Regions from separate parts of the Homo sapiens genome. Here regions 1, 2 and 4 are each linked to region 3. The links come from fine-mapping of genetic effects on gene expression. A gene starts in region 3. Each other region holds a variant in brackets. All regions are shown on one strand. Distances are from middle to middle.

What was found. PIP is the estimated chance that this variant, and not a neighbour inherited with it, causes the effect. A credible set is the group of variants that fine-mapping cannot tell apart.
Region 1: its variant is the best candidate, but not a certain one, in a credible set for the expression of CLIP1 in whole blood (INTERVAL, PIP 0.69).
Region 2: its variant is the best candidate, but not a certain one, in a credible set for the expression of CLIP1 in whole blood (TOPMed, PIP 0.54).
Region 4: its variant is the best candidate, but not a certain one, in a credible set for the expression of CLIP1 in whole blood (INTERVAL, PIP 0.63).

Annotation. Positions count from the first base shown.
Region 1 is chr12:122,450,837-122,455,984 of GRCh38, forward strand. No RefSeq gene overlaps it. Among named protein-coding and RNA genes, the nearest start is that of CLIP1, 31 kb to the left of the region's middle. The variant C/T (reference allele first, on the strand shown) is at 2,342.
Region 2 is chr12:122,459,946-122,465,093 of GRCh38, forward strand. No RefSeq gene overlaps it. Among named protein-coding and RNA genes, the nearest start is that of ZCCHC8, 38 kb to the right of the region's middle. The variant A/G (reference allele first, on the strand shown) is at 2,216.
Region 3 is chr12:122,419,598-122,424,745 of GRCh38, forward strand. It overlaps CLIP1 (CAP-Gly domain containing linker protein 1), which reads right to left and starts at 3,072. Exons shown (of 26, transcript NM_001247997.2): 1 at 2,924-3,072. RefSeq lists silencers at 2,369-2,768, 2,789-3,138 and an enhancer at 4,248-4,347.
Region 4 is chr12:122,440,779-122,445,926 of GRCh38, forward strand. No RefSeq gene overlaps it. Among named protein-coding and RNA genes, the nearest start is that of CLIP1, 21 kb to the left of the region's middle. RefSeq lists an enhancer at 2,628-3,128. The variant C/CTTTCT (reference allele first, on the strand shown) is at 2,463.

The DNA.
Region 1 (5,148 bases), 31 kb after region 3:
ATATCTTTGGCCCATTATTCTGTTGCATTGTCTATTTTTAAACTGATTGTAGTGGTTTTTAATATATTATGATTCTATATGTTCCAAATATTTTTTCCCATACGTGCCCTGTTTTTTTTTTGTTTTGTTTTGTTGTGTTTTTTAAATTTTTTTAAATGGTGCTTTTCAATTAATAGATGTTTTTAAAACTCTTAGGTCACAAAGTATTAGCCTATATTTTCCTATAAAATTTTTAAGGTTTTTGCTTTTATTCTCCTGGGATAGATTTTTTGTGTAATTTATGATGTGAGACAGCAAATCAAAATTATTTAAACTCATATATGTGGGTATTGCACCTAACCATATATATACATTCAGCCAGGCATGGTGGCTCACGCCTGGAATCCCAGCACTTTGGGAAGCCGAGGCGGGTGGATCACTTGAGGCCAGGACTTCAAGACCAGCCTGGCCCACATGGCGAAACCCCGTCTCTATAAAAAATACAAAAATTAGCCGGGTGTGGTAGCACCTGCCTGTAGTCCCAGCTACTTGGGAGGCTGAGGCAGAGAATTGCTTGGACCCAGGAGGCGGAGGTTGCAGTGAGCAGAGATCGCACCACTGCACTCCAGCCTGGGCAACAGAGCAAGACTCTGTCTCAAAAAAAAATTAACAAAGTATATATATATAAATATATGTATTCCAGTAACAATATAAAATGTAACATACATATATGTGTAATATAGTTTAGTTAACATGTATTACAAAGAAAAGTTAATATATTAAATAATACATGTTATATATTATCTATTACAACTTATCTTTTATATATACACACACACCCACACTCTTTAGTTAATACATATATTAGGGGAATATATAGATAGACCTCTAGATAGACCTCTTTCCATATCAGAAGATGTAGATTACCTTATATTAAAAAAATTTTTTTTGAGACAGAGTTTTGCTCTTGTTGCCCAGGCTGGAGTGCAGTGGTGCAACCTCTACTCACTGCAACCTCCACCTCCCAGGTTCAAGCAATTCTCCTGCCTCATCCTCCCGAGTAGCTGGGATTACAGGTATGCGGGATTACAGGATAATTTTGTATTTTTAGTAGAGACGGGGTTTCTCTATGTTGGCCAGGCTGGTCTCGAACTCCCAACCTCAGGTGATCCACCTGCCTCGGCCTCCCAAAGTGCTGAGATTATAGACATGAGCCACCACGCCTGGCCCCATATTTTAAATTATTTAATTTTTTTTTTCCCTAGAGATGAGTTCTTGCCATGTCGTTCAGGCTGGTCTTGAACTCCTAGGCTCAAGCGATCCTGCTGCCTCAGATTCCCAAAGTGCTGGGATTACAGGCGCGAGCCACTGTACCCAGCCTCCTCATTTTTTTAAACCATTGCGTTGTAAGATCATAGTGTGCTATGATTTCAACAGATTCCTACCAATAGACATTTAGGTTATTTTCAGTACTTGCTACTACACACATTGCCACAATAAACAGCCTTGGGTGCATATATAGTATACTCGTATTTCTTTTCTTCTTAAAAATGTTTTTTGTCTTACCAAGAAGCTTGAATCTGAAGCGCATACAGTGTGCTTTTACAAACATAGTTGTAGGATTAATGCTTAGATTAGAACCACTGAATCTAAAATATGTACATTTACATTTTTAAAAAAATTACCCTCCCAAAAAAGAGTGAGCCAATTTATATCCCCACCAATAATGTATGAGAATGCCTGTTCCCCTCTACTTTAACCTTTCTTAAATGTAAAACCAATCTTACTCCATCAAATACAGGCCATCAGAGCCTACCTGGAAACAGCTATGCATATGTTCCTGTCAGATAAAGCCATTTGAATCCCAAATGAAATTCCTAAAGCTAAAAGGAGATAAGGGTGCCTAAATCTGCTGGGACCAGTCAGATGTTGAGGTTTATGCTCTGCTGGTCAAAAATTACCTTACATTTTATTAGAGTTTACATCAGTTATCACGATTTCAGCAGCTGGTCTAACTCAGACTAGCGGAGACAATAAGGAGACTCATTAGCTCACAAAACAGGACGTTTGCAACACGGTTCAGCTTCAGGGCTGGTTGATGTAGTGGCTCAAGCCGCTAAATTTCTCAAGCACCCAAAATCTTTTCTTCTCTTTCTCTGCCATTTGCGGAGGTGGCTTCATCCTTCATTCAACCATCCTAAGGTAAGATGGTTGCCAGAGCAATGGATATGATATATGATACATTTCTGTCTCATGCGTTGTGTGAGGAGACCACCAAACAGGGTTTGTGTGTGCAGCAAGGCTGTTTATTTCACCTGGGTGCAGGCGGGCTGAGTCCGAAAAGAGAGTCAGCAAAGGGTGG[C/T]GTGATTACCACTAGTTCCTTTAGGTTTTGGGATAGGCGGTGGAGTTAGGAGCAATGTTTTGCAGGCAGGGGGTGGATCTCACAAAGTACATTCTCAAGGGTGGGGAGAATTACAAAGAACCTTCTTAAGGGTGGGGGAGATTATAAAGTACATTGATCAGTTAGGGTGGGGCAGAAACAAATCACAGTGGTGGAATGTCATCAGTTAAGGCTATTTTCACTTCTTTTGTGGATCTTCAGTTGCTTCAGGCCATCTGGATGTATTCGTGCAGCACAGGAGATATGATGGCTTAGTTTGGGCTCAGAGGCCTGACAATTTCCTATTCATGCTTTCTTGTGGTTTGCTTTGCTTTTGCTTTTGCTTTTGCTTTTTTTTTTTTTTTTTTTTTTTGAGACAGAGTCTCACTCTGTCTCCCCAGGCTGGAGTGCAGTGGTGCAATCTTGGCTCACTGCCACCTCTGCCTCCCAGGTTCAGGCGATTCTCCTACTTCAGCCTCCCTAGTAGCTGGGACTACAGGCCTGCGCCACCACACCTGGCTAATTTTGTATGTTTAGTAGAGACGGGGTTTCGCCCTTTAGGCCGGGCTGGTCTCGAACTCCTGAACTCAGGTGATCCGCCTGCCTCGGCCTCCCAAAGTGCTGGGATTACAGGTGTGAGCCACTGCTCCTGGCCTTTCCTATGGTTTTCTAAGTGTGCGTGTGCATGCACACACACACGTGCACGCACACACGCACCCTCTGGCATGCATCTCCTTGGCCCAGGTGGGCCCAGATGGGCCCAGGTCTGTCCACCCTGAATATACCATGATCAGGGTAAAGTGAGTATTGCACAGTCAACTATAACATTCACTACTGTGCTTCCATTTTCAAAGACTGAAGCAGAGACTACCAGAAGTCCCGCCCCCCTCAAAGCCATTCTACCCTCTTCCTGTATCTGATTCTTCCTGCCATGTGACATCCAGAATGAAGACATTTCCTAACTTCCTGTGTTATTAGGGATGGCCATGAAAATAAGTTCTGGCCAAGCTGAAGTAGCCCATGCAACCTCTTGGAAGTGTGTGTGTGTGTGTGTGTGTGTGTGTGTGTGTGTGTAAGAGATGGAGGCTTGCTCTGTTGCCCAGGCTAGAGTATAGTGGCATGATTACAGTTCACTGCAAACTTGAACTCCTGGGCTCAAGCGATCCTCCGGCCTCAGCCTTCGAGTAGTTACGATTACAGGGGTGAGCTACAGTGTCCAGTCCAGGCAGTTTTCTTAAAGGGAGAGGGCAAACATTTATCTTTCTTTTCTCCCTCCTGCTGATAGGATGTGATATTGTGACATAATAAGAAATAGGCCGGGCATGGTGGCTCACGCCTGTAATCCCAGCACTTTAGAAGGCCAAAGTGGGCAGATCACTTTCGGCCAGGAGTTTGAGAGCAGCCTGGCCAACACAGTGAAACGCCGTCTCTACTAAAAATACAAAAGTTAGCTGGGCATGGTGGCACATGCCTGTAATTCCAGCTACTCGGGAAGCTGAGAAGGAGAATCACTTGAACCCGCGAGGCGGAGGCTGCAGTGAGCCAAGATCGCACCACTGCCCTCCAGCCTGGGTGACAGAGCGAGACTCTGTGTCAAAAAAAAAAAAAAATAGAAATATACATTTTGATCTTTGTTGCCCCTGGCTTCTGGCCAGAGCTCCTAAAACCTTTGCAGTTTCTAAAGCAAAAAATGTTAGGAGCATCTTTCGTTCTACCATTTGGTCTTTGACCCTGTCTCCTAATACGAGCGCCTAATCCTTTGGAATTTTCTGGGTGACAGGAAGACCTATTGTTCTAATGAAGCCAAACTTGGTGGGCTCTTGGATAGCTTCAGGATGGGGGCTGGTCACCAGAATGACCAAACCATGATTAGCATCCTGAAACTTTCAGCCTCACCCTCCGTCTTCTGGGTGAGGGGAAAGGGCTGGAGATTAAGTTAATAATGGATCACGCCTGCATGAAGAAGTCTCCATAAAGGCAGAGTGTGGGGACTCAGTCTGTAAACCTAGCACTTTGGGAGGCTGAGGCAGGAGGATCACTTAAGCCTCTGGAAGTTGAGGCTGCAGTGAGTCGTGATCATGCCTCTGCACTCCAGCCTGAGTAGTGACAGAGCAAGATGCTGTCTCAAAAAAAAAAAAAAAAAAAAAAAAAAAAAGGCTGGGCGCAGTGGCTCACGCCTGTAATCCCAGCACTTTGGGAGGCCAAGGCAGGCGGATCACCGGGTCAGGAGATCAAGACCATCCTGGCTAACATGGTGAAACCCCATCTCTACTAAAAATACAAAGAAATTAGCCTGGTGTGGTGGTGGGCGCCTGTAGTCCCAGCTACTCCCAGGAGGCTGAGGCAGGAGAATGGCGTGAACCCAGAAGGCGGAGCTCGCAGTGAGCCGAGACTGCACTCCAGCCTGGGTGACACAGCGAGACTCCGTCTCAAAAAAAAAAAAAAAAAGAAAGAAAAAAGAAAAGAAAAAGAAAGAAGGAAAGGCCGGGCGCAGTGGCTCACGCCTGTAATCCCAGAACTTTGGGAGGCCGAGGCGGGCGGATCACGAGGTCAGGAGATCGAGACCATCCTGGCTAACATGGATAAACCCCGTCTCTACTTAAAAAAAAATACAAAAAATTAGCCAGGCGTGGTGGCGGGCGCCTGTAGTCCCAGCTTCTTGGGAGGCTGAGGCAGGAGAATGGTGTGAACCTGGGAGACAGAGCTTGCAGTGAGCCGAGATCGTGCCACTGCACTCCAGCCTGGGCGAAAGAGCGAGACTCCGTCTCAAGAAAGAAAGAAAGAAAGAA
Region 2 (5,148 bases), 40 kb after region 3:
GTAACCCCAGCTACTTGGGAGGCTGAGGTAGGAGAATCCCTTGAACCTGGGAGGCAGAGGTCGCAGTGAGCCGAGATTGCGTCACAACACTCTAGCCTGGGAAACAGAGCGAGACGCTGTCTCAAAAAAATAAATTAAAAAAAAGATCTTAATGTCTGATTTTTCATTATCATTGAAATGAAAGCAGAAAATATAAAAATTTATCAGGGCCAGGCACAGCAGCTCACGCTTGTAATCCCAGCACTTAGGGAGGCCAAGGTGGGCAATCACTTGAGGCCAGGAATTCCAGACCAGCCTGGGCAACGTGGCAAAATCCTGTCTTTACTGAAAAAAAAAAAAAAAAAATTAGCCGGGTGTGGTGGCGTGCACCCGTGATCCCAGCTACTCAGAGGCTGAGTTGGGAGGATCACTTGGGCCTGGGAGGTCGAGGCTGCAGTCAGCCAAGAGTTCACCACTGCTCTCTAGCCTGGACAACAGAGAGACCCCCCGTCTCAAAAAAAAATAATTATGTGGAGAACTTGTGGATTTCTGAGAGACAATTTGTCTGTAAACTCTGTGTTGAGAACTATTGCTATAGCATAGCCCTATATAGTAATATAGTATAGTAGAGTTTACTGTAGGGTTGACTGTACTCAGTGTCTGGCGAGATAAGGCCAATGTTGACTATGAAATGCTCATCTCATTCTGGAAGTCTCGGACTCCTCAGAGATCACAGAAAACAGGAAAAGATGAACATGGATGCAATTCTTTGGAAAAGATTCTGCCTGTCTGTAAGGATGAGAATCAGCTAACTGGGGCCTTCCACAAAGTCCCTCAAACTGGGTGGCTTAATCAGCAGAAATGTAGAAACATATTCTCTCAGTTCTCAGTTTTGTTTTGTTTTTTTGAGACAGAGTCTCACTCTGTTGCCCAGGCTGGAGTGCAATGGCACGACCTCAGCTCACTGCAACCTTGGCCTCCTAAAGTCCTGGGATTACAGGGGTGAGCCACTGAGCCCAGCCATATTCTCTCAGCTTTCAAGGCTAGAATTCCCAGGTTGGCTCCTTCTGGGCACTCTGAGGGACGGGCTGTTCCATGCCTCTCTCACAGCTTCTGGCATTCCTTGGCTCATAGATGCATCACTCCAGTCTCTGCCTCCATCTCCACATCGCTTTCTGCCTCCATCTCTCTGTGCCAGATTTCCCTCTTCTTATAAAGACATCAGTCTTATAAAGGCGCAGTGGCTCATGCCTGCAATCCTAGCACTTTGGGAGACTGAAGTGGGAGGATCTCTTGAGCCCAGGAGTTTGAGACTCACCCAGGCAGCAAGGCAAGACTCTGTCTCTATAAAAAATTTAAAAATTAGCTGGGCATGGTGGTGCTTACCTGTGGTCTCAGATACTTGGGAGGCTGAGACGGGAGGATCACTTGAGCCCAGGAGGTAGAGGCTGCAGTGAGCGATGTTTATGTCACTGTGCTCCAGCCTGGGCAGCAAAGGGAGATCCTGTCTTAAAAAAAAAAACTGGGCTGTAAAATCGAGCTTGTGTCTGTAATCCCAGCACTTTGGGAGGCTAAGGCGGGTGATCATCTGAGGTCAGGACTTCGAGACCAGCCTGGCCAACATGGTGAAACCCTGTGCTACTAAAAATACAAAAATTAGCCGGGCATGGTGGCAGGTGCCTGTAATCCCAGCTACTAGGGAGGCTGAGGCACAAGAATTGCTTGAACCTGAGAGGCAGAGGTTGCAGTGAGCCAAGATCGCATGACTGCACTCCAGCCTGGGCAACAAGAGCAAAACTCCGTGTCAAAAAAAAAAAAAAAATTGTCAGTCACTCTTATGTCCTAACAGAATGTATTCAGTATTCAATTAAAAGACATTTTGGTTCAAAAAAATTAAAATTTAAAAAATTAGCCTGACAACATGGTCAAACTCCATCTTTACAAAAAATAAAAAAATTAGCCTGGCATGGTGGTGTACACCTGTTGTCCCAGCTACTCAGGAGTCTGAAGTGGGAGGATCTCTTGAGCCTGGGAGGTGGAGGTTGCATTGAGCCAAGATTTTGCCACTGCACTCCAGCCTGAGCAACAGAGAGAGACCCTGTCTCAAAAAAAAATTATTTTTTAATTAAAAATCAATACAAGAAATGGTTGAAAAAGGAGAAAGCTACTGACCAATATTTTAATAAACATAGATACAAAATCCTCACCAAAATACTAGCAAACTGTATCCACCAAT[A/G]TATAAAAAGGATTAAACAATATGATCAAATGTGATAGAATACAAGGTTGGTTCAACATCTGAAAATCAATTAATGTAATACATTGAATCAATAGAATGGACAAAAACTGCATGATAATCTCAATACGGAAAATGTATTTGACAAAACTCAATACTCCTTCTTGATAAAAATACTCAACAAACTGGGAAATGAATACCACCCATTCCTACCATAACTGATGAATATTCAGTGGATCATTTATGTTTTGTGCCTGCAGTTATTTACCTATTCCTTTGTAAAACACACTTGGTCGCAATTTCTTCTAAAGAGCACAACAAGGCCTATCTTTATCTAAACATCCTAAAAACACTCAGGAGTGAGTCATTTACACAAAGCACATTAAATATACTGGCAATTTTACTCTGAGCATCAGAATAAAGAAGGAGCTTAGAAAATTGCTTCAGTTCAGGCCGGGTGCGGTGGCTCACGCCTGTAATCCCAGCACTTTGGGAGGCCGAGGCGGGCAGATCACGAGGTCAGGAGATTGAGACCATCCTGACTAACATGGTGAAACCGCATCTCTATTAAAAACACAAAAAATTAGCTGGGCATGGTGGCAGGTGCCTGTAGTCCCAGCTACTCGGGAGGCTGAGGCAGGAGAATGGCGTGAACCTGGGAGGCAGAGCTTGCAGTGAGCCGAGATCACGCCACTGCACTCCAGCCTGGGTGACAGAGCGAGACTCCATCTCAAAAAAAAAAAAAAAAAAAAAAAGAAAGAAAATTGCTTCAGTTCATCAAAAATGAAATGCAAGTTTGCAAGTTATGATGAAGGAAGCTCAAGTAAGGGCAAAACACAGACCAAGGAGTTGGAAGGATGGCTGGGTGCAGTGGCTCTGGCCTGTAATGCCAGCACTTTGGGAGGCTGAGGCAGAAGGATTGCTTGAGCCCAGGAGTTCAAGAGCAGCCTGGGCAACAAACTGAGACCCCATGTCTACAAAAATAAAAATGAGGCTGGGCGCAGTGGCTCACGCCTGTAATCCCAGCATTTTGGGAGGTCGAGGTGGGAGGATCACAAGGTCAGGAGATCCAGACCATCCTGGCTAACACGGTGAAACCCTGTCTCTACTAAAACTACAAAAAATTAGCCGGGCGTGGTGGCGGGCACCTGTAGTCCCAGCTACTCCGGAGGCTGAGGCAGGAGAATGACGCGAACACGGGAGGCGGAGCTTGCAGTGAGCTGAGATTGCACCACTGCACTCCAGCCTGGGCGACAGAGCAAGACTCCGTCTCAAAAAATAAAAATAATAAAATAAATAAATAAATAAAATAAAAATGAAAAAATTAGCCATGCATGGCAGCATGTGCCTTTAGCCCCAGCTCCTTGGGAGGCCGGGCAGGAGGATAGCGAGAGCCCAGGTGTTCGAGGCTATAGTGAGCTATGATCACATCACTGCACTGAAGCCTGGGCAACAGAGCAACACCCTTTCTCTAAAAAAAAAAAGAGTTGGAAGGAACCTTAGTGATCACTGAGTTCAAACTCTTACCCTGAGCACCAATCTACTTAGACCTCAGCCAATCTCTAAAAGGTAATATACAAGTAGGCTATTTTAACCTTTGAATCTAGTCACTTGCTCAACAAAATTTTTTTTTCTTAGGAGACAGGGTCTGTCTCTGACCCAGGCTGAAGTTCAATGTCACGATCACAGTCCACTGCAGCCTCGACCGTCCTCCTATCTCAGCCTTCCGAGCAGTTGGGACCACGGGTGTGTACCACCACACCAAGCTAATTTTGTTTATTTTTTGTAGAGACAGGTCTCGAACCTTGCTATGTTGCCAAGACTGGTCTCAAACTACTGGCCTCAACCTATCCTCTTGTCTTGGCCTCCCAAAGCATTGGGATTACAGGCGTGAGCCACCACATCCAGCCCTGCTGCAAGGTTCTTAACTGGGGGTCCACGGACCTTCTGGATAGAATTCAGGGAAATTTGACATTTCCTTCAATTATGACTGTAGGCAAACATTCTGTTTCTACCACATGCCTGCTATGCCTGTCCTAATCCTTGACTCTCTAAAGTCATGAACCCTATTAGATTTCAACTACCCTCATATAGTAGGTGTTCAGTATTCCTCCAAATGTTCTAAATAAAAACTTAGTAGAATGGGCCAGTACAATGAACAGAGTTGTAATTGGTTTGAAGAATCCAAGATCAGGACTGTGGTAGGAACAGAAGGAAACTTGTTCCAAGTCTGTGAGAAATTTGCCCCAGGTCCAATCCCACAACCTGTTCCAATCCAGTTTCATTTGTCATTCTCACTTATGACTAATGAATTTGCTTCCATGACGGAAAACATTAAGAAATCACTCTGGCATGAGGTCACCCTACAAAGGAGCAATCTCAGCTGCCCGGAATGTCAGCGTTCAGTAAGGGCCACACCCCTTGCCTTTTCAGTAATTCCTCCTATTACAAAATTCCAAATGCAGCCATATTGTTGATAGGAAATTTTGTTTAAAAAATACATTTCTTAGGCCGGGCGCGGTAGCTCGTGCCTGTAATCCCAGCACTTTGGGAGGCTGAGGTGGCGGATCACAAGGTCAGGAGTTCAAGACCAGCCTGGCCAACATGGTGAAACCCCATCTCTACTAAAAATACAAAAAAATTATCCAGGCATGGTGGCATGCACTTGCAGTCCCAGCTACTAGGGAGGCTGTGGCAGGAGAATCGCTTGAACCTGGGAGGCAGAGGTTGCAGTGAGCTGAGATTGCGCCACTGAGATTGCGCCACTGCACTCCAGCCTGGGTGACGGAGCGAGACTCCATCTCATAAATAAATAAATAAATAATTTTTTTGCGGAACGTGGTGGTTCGTGGTTATAATTCTGACACTGTGGGAGGCTAAGGCGGGTGGATCTCCTGAGCCCAGGAGTTAAAGACCAGCCTGGGTAATGTAGGGAG
Region 3 (5,148 bases):
ATACACCATCCACTGGCTTTCGAATCCCAGCAGACAGCACTTAAAAAGCAAGAATCGGCCGGGCACAGTGGCTCATGCCTGTAATCCCAGCACTTTGGGAGGCCGAGGTGAGAGGATCACTTGAGGTCAGGAGTTCGAGACCAGCCTGGCCAACATCGTGAAACCCTGTCTCTACTAAAAATACAAAAACTAGCCCGGTGCCGTGGTGTGTGCCTGTAATCCCAGCTACTCGGGAGGCTGAGGCAGGAGAATTGCTTGAGCCTGGGAAGCGGAGGTTGCACCACTGCACTCCAGCCTGGGCAACAGAGCGAGATGCGAGACTCTGTCTCAAAAAAAAAAAAAAAAAAAAGCAAGAATCAAACATGACTGAGTTAGTTCATGTCCCTTATGAGTCACATGGGATGTGACAGAGTGAATTTTAGCCACTAGGTAAAAAAAATTTTTTTTAAGATAAGGACATCAGGCCAGGCGTGGTGGCTCACACCTATAATCCCAGCACTTTGGGAGGCTGAGGCAGGCGGATCACCTGAGGTCAGGTGTGATCAGCCTGGCTGGCCAACGTGATGAAACTCCATCTCTACTAAAAAAATACAAAAAATTAGCCAGGCATGGTGGCAGGCACCTAAAATCCCAGCTACTCGGGAAGCTGAGGCAGGAGAATCGCTTGAACCCAGTAGGCAGAGGTTGCAGTGAGCCGAGATCACTCCATTGCACTCCAGCCTAGGCAACAAGAGTGAAATTCCATGTCAAAAAAAAAAAAAGAGATAAGGATATCAGATTCTAAACTCCTCAATAGGACAGAAACCAGATTAGCTTATGTCATGCTGAAGTGCAAGCTGGAGCTGAAGCAATGATTGAAAAAATAGGGAAGGGCAAAATCTTGATCTTCAGGCAAAATACCTACCCAGGGTCCCACCCGGTTTCAGTTTTCCCCTTTGAACTAGGTCTAGTGGGAAGATGTACTTAACTGCTTTCTCTGAACCTTAAAAATCGGGCACAAGCCTTTGGCCAAGCAATTACCCACTTCAACTTTGCTTTAATGTAGACCAGCCTTGGGGCCAGGTGCGGTAGTTCACACCTGTAATCCCAGCACTTTGGGAGCCCAAAGCAGGTGGATGACTTGAGCCCAGGAGTTCGAAATCAGCCTGGGCAACGTGGTGAAACCCCATCTCTACCACAGATACAAAAATTAGCCGGGCGTGGTGGCGGGCACCTGTAATTCCAGTACTCAGGAGGCTGAGGCACGAGAATCGCTTAAACCTGGGAGGCCGAGATTGCAGTGAGCTGAGATCACGCCACTGCACTCTGGCCGGGGGGACAGATTGAGGCTCCCTCTCATTGATTGATTGATTGATTGATGGATGGATAGACAGACAGACAGACTAGCCTTGCTTTTTGCCACAGATTCCCTATACTAATCGAATAACTAAGCACCTGAAGTCAGAATACCTGAGTTCACATGCTGGTAAAAGGTATTCTGACTTCAGGTGCTTAGCTGTATAACCCTGGTCAAGTTACTTGACCTTTCTATGACCCTCCTGCCGAATGCACATGACGACAGCACGCTCACTGGGTTAGGGTTGATTAAATGAAATAAAACACATAAAAAGCTAGCCCAGAGCCTGGCCACAAGATGCCTTCAATAAATGTTCATTGTTATAATTTACAGAGAAAAAAAGGCCCCAAGTCTGAGAAGCGACATGCCTGGGGATTCTTGCTAAAGGTTATCATTAAATCTAAAAGTCAAACAAACACATTCCTGACTCTGGGATACTCTCCTGATTCGTGGATACCATCGCTAACAGTAGTGACACAAATCAAATAATAAGAACAGCCAGAATCATAACCCTAATGACAGCAGTGGCCACAGCACTTAATACTTATAGAGCTGCTAGGGGCCACTGTCCTAAAAGAGGAAGAAGGCCAGGCTGCTGAATCACACACACACAATTACAGAATCTTCTCCACCCTTTGTTTTAAAAAACAGTTCACTGGCGCCCAAGTTTTGCTAAAAACAGGTATCTAAACCGATGACGGACAACGTGTAATTTCTTCATACCAAAGAGGTGGGGCTGTGCAGGGAGGAGGGGGTGGCGCTCGGCTCCTGCCAGATGGAAAAGCCACATGAAGTGGAGAAACAGCCGGATTCAGGATTCACCCCCGAATCAAAACCCGATTTTTGAAAGGCAGGACCTTCCAATTCGGGCAATCGCTAGGTTCTGCTTGTAAAATAACCTCTGAACAAGTGTCATCTGCCTTCCGCGCCAATCCCCTGCCGCGGTAGAAGGTTCGGATTACCGGGCAGCGGTGTGATTTCGGAAACCCGAGAGCGATCTGGCCACCTCCAGCCTTCCCCGGTCTCCGAGAATCACAGCCCCACTTGAGAGGAAAACAAAAGCCGGGGCAGCGGGGGAGGCCGGGCCAGGGTGCCCTCCATGCCGGATCGCGGGCGCCGGGCACCCGGGGCCTGAGGAATGCTCAGGTGACAGGCGCGGCGCCCGGGGCAACAGGTCCCGCCCGGCTTCGGCCTCCCGGGGTCCGGCCGATCCCACATCCGCCCCGGGGCCCAGGAGAGGGAGCGGGGCGCCAGGGAGAGAGCGGCGCCTGGGGCGGCGCAGGGGCAAGGAGTCCAAGCTCCATCTTGAGGCGGGCGGAGGAAGCGAAGGCCCGGCTCGGCGCTGACAGGGCCGCCACTTTTCCAGCTCCGGAGGAGCCCCCCAGGGACCCCCGGCCTCCGGCGCCGGCCACCCGAGACTCCCGCGGTCCCCTCCCGGACGGCTCCGGCGCGCGAGGCTCGGCCCCGCTCCCGGACGCCGGGCTTCGACCCCCGACCCGACCCTGGGCGGGCCCCGCAGGCCGGGAAGCCGGCAGGGGAGCAGGGGGTGCCGGGAAAGGGAGAGGGCCCGCGCCGCCCCCTGCTCACCTCCTCGGACGCCGCCGGTCGCCGCCACCTGTCCCACTGCAGCAGCAGCAGCCGCCGCGGCCGCCGCCTCCCGCCTCCCGGCTCGTCGGCTCGGGGCGGGGGAGAGCGTGACGCGCCGCCGCCGCCGCGGGGCCGGGCGGGCGCGCGCTGCCAGGAGAAGACGCCGCGCGGCTCCTCCCAGCGCTCCGCCGCCGCGCCCGCCCGGCCGGCCCGGCCGGCCCGGCCCCTCGAGTCCGCACCGGCCCTGCGGCCCGCGCCCGGCCCCGCGCCGCCCCGCCGCCTCTTTGTCTGCGCCCACCGCGGCCCCGGGAGGACCCTGGCCCCGGCGCGCCCGCCGCTCCGCCCTCGAACCCTCCCGAGCCCCGGCTTGGGGAGCAAGGTGCGAGGGAAAACCCACAGGCCTGCTCCGAGGGGCTTCTCGTCATTTCTGCAAAGTGTTCCCAGAATTTGCAAGTCACACCCAAGAGCCCCATTCAGCCTCGACCTCAGCCCGCTCTTTGGGGCTGATTCATTTGTTTGCCCTCCCCTTCCCGCCAGACAAGGGTGAGAAATCCTTTGAAACAGGCTGCAAGGCGCTTCCGAAGCAGGTTAAGTTGGGGATTGGGAAGGATCATCTCTGCCCTCGCCTCCCTCCAGGGAAAGACCCTGGATGAGGCGTCCCTGGAGAAAATGCTGAAAGGAACTGTAGAGCAGGTTAAGCTTGGGAAGAACTGTATCTGCTCCCCACTTCCCTCCGGGAACGACCGCGGGTTAAAAATCCTTTGAAACGATCCCAGGGTTTGCTCCGTTCGTTTGAGAAAAGCCCCTTTTATTCGCCCTGGCTGCTTGGACGGAAGCCCTGGTTAGTGTCCCATCCTCCTTCCCCCCTGGGATTTCCTTTAAAAGCTTTTGAAAGGGACAGGAGGGAAGGCTGCAACAGCCTGCTCGGGGCTGGGGTAGCAGAGGGCGGCCAGCATTTCACTCCCATGGACCATGGCAACCCCAGAAGCCTTACATCTCCAGGGAGGAATTTGCAGCTGTCGGGGAAGCCCAGGATTTTGTGGTGGATAAGGGGGCAGGGGCTTCCTCCTCCTTGCCAGTAGAAGAGAATAATCGGCGGGTGACCCCTCTAGCTGACCTTTATTCAAAGCACCGTGCTGCCTGGACCAGCAGGAAGAGGGAACTGCTCTGGTAATGCACGAAGTTCTGAACTATGTAAATTTGTCTCCTGGCCCCTCCTCTCCATTCATGTCTGAAATCCCTCGAAATGCTGTTACCTAATTCAACATCGCCCTAATTTACAGGCTGCAAGGTCAGGTGGTGGTGGTACTCCTGAAATCCCATATCCATATTCCTAATCTGAAAGGCGCGCCTCACCCCCTAATCTAAACAGTCTTCAGCTGTAATCAGCAAGCTGTGGAATCATAGATGTCATAGGATGAGGCACAGACCACTTCTAATGGGGGAGTTCAGCTAGGAACACTTATGGGCTTGTCTTTTCTTCTCTACTCAGTAGGCTGAGCCTGTCTTTATTAAAAATATTGTTTTGGGGCTGGGTGTGGTGGCTCACGCCTGTAATTCTAGCACTTTGAGAGACCCAGGTGGGTGGATCACCTGCAGACAGGAGTTCAAGACCAGCTTGGCCAACATGGTGAAACCCCGTCTCTAACAAAAAATACAAAAATTAACTGGGCATGGTGGTGCATGCCTGTAGTCCCAGCTACTCGGGAGGCTGAGACACGAGAATTGTTTGAACCCGGGAGGCGGAGGTTGCTGTGACCAGAGTTCAAGCCACTACACTCCAGCCTGGGTGCCGGAGGGAGACTCTGTCTCAAAAAATATATATATATATACACATGTATATATATATGTATATATATGTGTGTGTGTGTGTGTGTGTATATTTGCTTGTTCTCATGGGTTATTCTATGTCATTGTCATGTTCATCATTTGCTTATTTATTTATAATTATATCATTTTGTTCATCATGGAGTCTTGGCGTTAATTTTTTTTTTTTTTTTTTTTTTTGAGATGGAGTCTCACTCTGTCGCCCAGGCTGGAGTGCAGTGGTGCGATCTCGGCTCACCGCAAGCTCTGCCTCCCGGGTTCACGCCATTCTCCTGCCTCAGCCTCCCGAGTAGCTGGGACTACAGGTGCCCGCCACCACGCCCGGCTAATTTTTTGTATTTTTTTAGTACAGACAGGGTTTCACCGTGTTAGCCAGGATGGTCTCGATCTCCTGACCT
Region 4 (5,148 bases), 21 kb after region 3:
CCCCGGTTCAGGAGATTCTCCTGCCTCAGCCTCCCGAGTAGCTGGGATTACAGGCATGTGCCACCACACCCAGCTAATTTTTGTATTTTTTTAGTAGAGATGGGGTTTCACAATGTCGGCCAGGATAGTCTCAATCTCCTGGCCTCATGATCCGCCCACCTCAGCCTTCCAAAATGCTGGGATTACAGGCGTGAGCCACTGTGCCTGGCCAAGTTTTCTATGTTTAGTAGAGATGGGGTTTCACCATGTTGGCCAGGCTTGTCTTAAACTCCTGACCTCAAGTGATCCACCCACCTTGGCCTCCCAAAGTGCTGGGATTACAGGCTTGAGCTGCTGTGCTCGGCCTGCTAAATCTTTATTTATGTATTTATTTATTTTGAGACGGAGTCTCGCTCTGTCACCCAGGCTGGAGTGCAGTGGCGCAATCTCGGCTCACTGCAAACTCCACCTCCCGGGTTCATGCCATTCTCCTGCCTCAGCCTCCCGAGTAGCTGGGACTACAAGCGCCCGCCACTACGCCCGGCTAATTTTTTGTATTTTTAGTAGAGACGGGGTTTCACCGCGTTAGCCAGGATGGTCTCAATCTCCTGACCTCGTGATCCACCCGCCTCGGCCTCCCAAAGTGCTGGGATTACAGGCTTGAGCCACTGCGCCCGGCCCCCAGCCTGCTAAATCTTTATATCCAGTCCAGAATTCTCTTTTTTTGTAAATTCAGATACAAAGTCTCACTGTGTTGCCCAGGCTGGAGTGCAGTGGCACAATCTCAGCTCACTGCAACCTCTGCCTCCTAGGTTCAAGTGATTCTGGTGTCTCAGCCTCCTGGCTATCTGAAATTATAGGTATGTGCCACCATGCCCCACTAATTTTTGCGTTTTTAGTAAAGATGGGGTTTTGTCATGATGGCCAGGCTGAGAGAGACATCAACTCTTAAAAAAAAAAAAAAAGAAAAGTGAAAAGAGAACAACAACAAAAAAATAGTTGAGCATGGTGGCATGCGCCTGTGGTCCCAGCTACTCGGGAGGTTGAGGTGGGAGGATCCCTTGAAACCAGGAGTTAAAAGGCTACAGTGAGCTATGATTGCACCACTTCACTCTAGCCTGGGTGACAGGGTGGGACTCCATCTTTTAAAAAAATTTTTGTTGTTGTTGTTTTTTTTTGAGATGGAGTCTCTCTCCATCACCCAGGCTGAAGCGCAGTAGTGCGATCTCAGCTCACTGCAACCTCCACCTCCGGGTTCAAGCGATTCTCCTGCCTTAGGCTCCCAAGTAGCTGGGACTACAGGTGTCTACCATCACTCCCAGCTAATTTTTTATTTTTAGTAGAGATGAGGGTTCATCATGTTGGCCAGTCTGGTCTCGAACTCCTGACCTCAGGTGAACCGCCCGCTTCAGCCTCCCAAAGTGCTGAGATTACAGGTGTGAGCCACCGCGCCCAGCCAGAATGTCTTTTCATTTATTTTTTATTTTATTTTATTTTATTTTGAGACGGAGTCTCGCTCTATCACCCAGGTTGGAGTGCAGTGGTGCGATTTCGGCTCACTGCAAGCTCCGCCTTCTGGGTTCACACCATTCTCCTGCCTCAGCCTCCTGAGTAGCTGGGACTACAGGCGCCCGCCACCACGCCCGGCTAATTTCTTTGTATTTTTAGTAGAGACGGGATTTCACCATGTTAGCCAGCATGGTCTCGATCTCCTGACCTCATGATCCGCCTGCCTCGGCCTCCCAAAGTGCTGGGATTACAGGTGTGAGCCACTGCGCCCGGCCGTCTTTTCATTTATTTAGGTCTTCTTCAATTTCTCTTAACACTATTTTTAGTTTTTCAGTGTATCACAGTACCCTCCTTTTTTTTTTTTTCTGTAATGCCTTTGAAAAAATTGGGCTGGTTGTGGTGGCTCATGCCTGTAATCCCAGCACTTTGGGAGGCCAAGGTGGTGGATTGCTTGAGCTTAGGAGTTTGAGACCAGCGTGGGCAAAATGGTGAAACCCCCCGTCTCTACTACAAAAAAAAAAAAATTGGCTGGACTTGGTGGTGCGTGCCTGTAACCCCAGCTACTCAGGAGGCTGAGGCAAGAGAATCATTTGAGCCCAGGAGGCAGAGGTTGCAGTGAGCCAAGATCGTCCCACTGCACTCCAGCCTGGGTGACAAAGCGAGACCCCATCTCAAAAAAAAAAAAAAAAAGAAAGAAAGAAAGAAAGAAAAAACTGGGCCAGTTGTCCTATAGAATGTTCTTCCTTCTGGATTTGTTATTTAACTTTTTTTTAATAGAGACGAGGTGGCGCACACAACCACACCTGGCTAATTTTTTTTTTTTTTTTTTAGTGGAGACAGAGTTTCACCATATTGGTCAGGCTGGTCTTGAACTCCTGACCTCGTGATCTGCCCGCCTCAGCCTCCTAAGGTGCTGGGATTTCAGGCATGAGCCACGCACCTGGCTTAACTTTTCTTTCTTCCTTTCTTCCTTC[C/CTTTCT]TTTCTTTTCTTTTCTTTCTTCCTTTCTTCCTTTCTTTTCTTTTCTTTCTTTCTTTTTCTTTCTTCCTCTCTCTTTCTCTTTCTTTCTTTCTGTCTCTCTTTCTCTCTCCCTCTCCCTCCCTCCTTGCTTCCTTCCTTTCCTTCCTTTTCTTCCCTTCCTTCCTTTCTTCATTCCCTCCTTCCCTTTCTTTCTTCTTTCTTTCTTTCCTTCCTTCCTTCGTTCCCTCCTTCCCTCCTTCCCTCTTTCTTTCTTCTTTCTTTCTTTCTTTCTTTCTTTCTTTCTTTCTTTCTTTCTTTCTTTCTCTTTCTTTCTTTCTTTCCTTCCTTCCTTCCTTTCTTTCCTTCTTTCTTTCTTTTTCTTACTCTGTTGCCCTGGCTGGAGTGCATTGGCTTGATCTCGGCTCACTGCAACCTCCGCCTCCCAGGTTCAAGCGATTCTCCCGCCTCAACCACCCGAGTAGCTGGGAGTACAGGTATGCACTACCACGCCTGGCTAATTTTTGTATTTTCAGTAGAGACACAGTGTCACCATGTTGGCCAGGCTGGTCTCAAACTTCCGGCCTAAAGTGATCTGCCCGCCTCAGCCTCCCAAAGTGCTGGGGTTAGAGGCATGAGCCATCGTGCCCGGCCTTTTCTTCTATTTCTTATATTTTCTGCAAACTGGAAGTTAGCCGCCTCGTTTCAGATGAGGCAGAGAAATGAAGAGTTGGTGTCTCTGTGTTGCCCAGGCTGGTCTCGAACTCCTGGGCTCAGGCAATCCTCCCACTTTGGTTTTCCCGTCCCCAGCCATTACATCTTTTTATAGAGATGGGGTCTCACTATGTTGACCAGGCTGGTCTTGATCTCCTGGCCTCACGTGATCTTCCTGCCTCTGCCTCCCAAAGTGCTAGGATTACAGACGTGAGCCACTGCTCCCAGCCACAATGCAACAATAAAAAGACATATAGCCCAATTAAAAATGGGCAGAGGATGGCTAGGCATGGTTGGTTCACACCTGTAATCCCAGCACTTTGAGACGCCAAGGTAGGAGGATCACTTGAGTCCAGGAGTTTGAGATCAGCCTGGACAACATAGCAAGACCCCATTTATTTTTTTTTTAGACCCAGTCTCACTCTGTCGCCCAGGCTGGAGTGCAGTAGGGCAATCTCAGCTTACTGCAACCTCCACCTCCTGGGTTCAAGTGATTCCCCTGCCTCAGCCTCCTGAGTAGCTGGGGCTACAGGCACGTGCCACCGCGCCCAGCTAATTTGTATATTTTTAGTAGAGATGGGGTTTTGCCATATTGGCCAGGCCAGTCTTGAAATCCTGACCTCAGGTGATCCACCCGCCTTGGCCTCTCAAAGTGCTGGGATTACAGGCTTGAGCCACTGTCCCCAGCCCCCATTTCTTTTTCTTTTTCTGCTTTTTTTTTTTTTTTCCTGAGACAGAGTTTCGCTCTTATTGCCCAGGCTGGAGTGCAATGGCATGAGCTCAGCTCACCAAAACCTCCACCTCCCGAGTTCAATCGATTCTCCTGCCTCAGCCTCCCGAGTAGCTGGGATTACAGGCATGCGCCACCATGCCTGGCTAATGTTGTATTTTTAGTAGAGATGGGGTTTCTCCATGTTGGTCAGGCTGGTCTCAAACTCCTGACCTCAGGTGATCCACCCGCCTCGGCCTCCGGAAGTGCTGGGATTACAGGCGTCACCACGCCTGATCCCCAGCCCCCATTTGTTAAAAAAAAAAAAAAAAAAGGTAGAGAATTTGAATAGACATGTATCCAAAGAAGATATACAAATGGCCAATAAGCACATGGAAAGATGTTCAACATCAGTCACTGGGGAAATGCCCATCAAAATAACAGTGAGATGCCACTTCACCCCCACTAAGATAACTAAAATAAAAGGGACAGATAGTAACAAGTGGTGCCAAGAATGTAAAGGAATTAGAATCCTCATACATTGCTGGTAAGAATGTAAGATGGCACAGCTACTTTGAAAACAGTTTGTCAACTTGTCAAAATGTGAAACATAGAGTTCCCATATGACCCAGTAATTATCCTCATAGGTGTATTCCCAAGATAAATAAAAACATATATCCATACAAAAACTGGTACACGAATGTTCATAGCATTATTTATAAGAGTCAACAAGTAGAAACAACCCAAATGTCCATCAACTAATGAGTAGATAAACAAAATGTGTGACCGGGCGTGGTGGCTCATGCCTGTAATCCCAGCATTTTGGGAGGTCGAGGCGGGTGGATTGCTTGAGTCCAGGAGTTGGAGACTAGCCTGAGCAACATAGCAAAACCCTGTCTCTTCGAAAAATATAAAAAAATTAGCTGGGTGTGGTGGTGTTTGCCTATAGTCCCAGCTACTCAGGAGGCTGAGGTCGGAGGATCACCTGAGCCCAGGAGGTCAAGACTGTGGTGAGCCATGATTGTGCCACTGGATTCCAGCCTGGGCAACAGAGTGAGACTCTGTCTCAAAAAACAAACAAACAAAAAAGCAAAGGAACCGTGCATGGTGGCTCACGCCTGTAATCCCGGCACTTTGGGAGGCCAAGGCTGGCAGATCACCTGAGGTTGAGAGTTAAAGACCAGTGTGGCCAATGAAACCAGAGACTGATAAAACCCAGTCTCTACTAAAAATACAAAAAGTAGCTGGATATAATGTTGCACGCCTGTAATCCCAGCTACTAGGAAG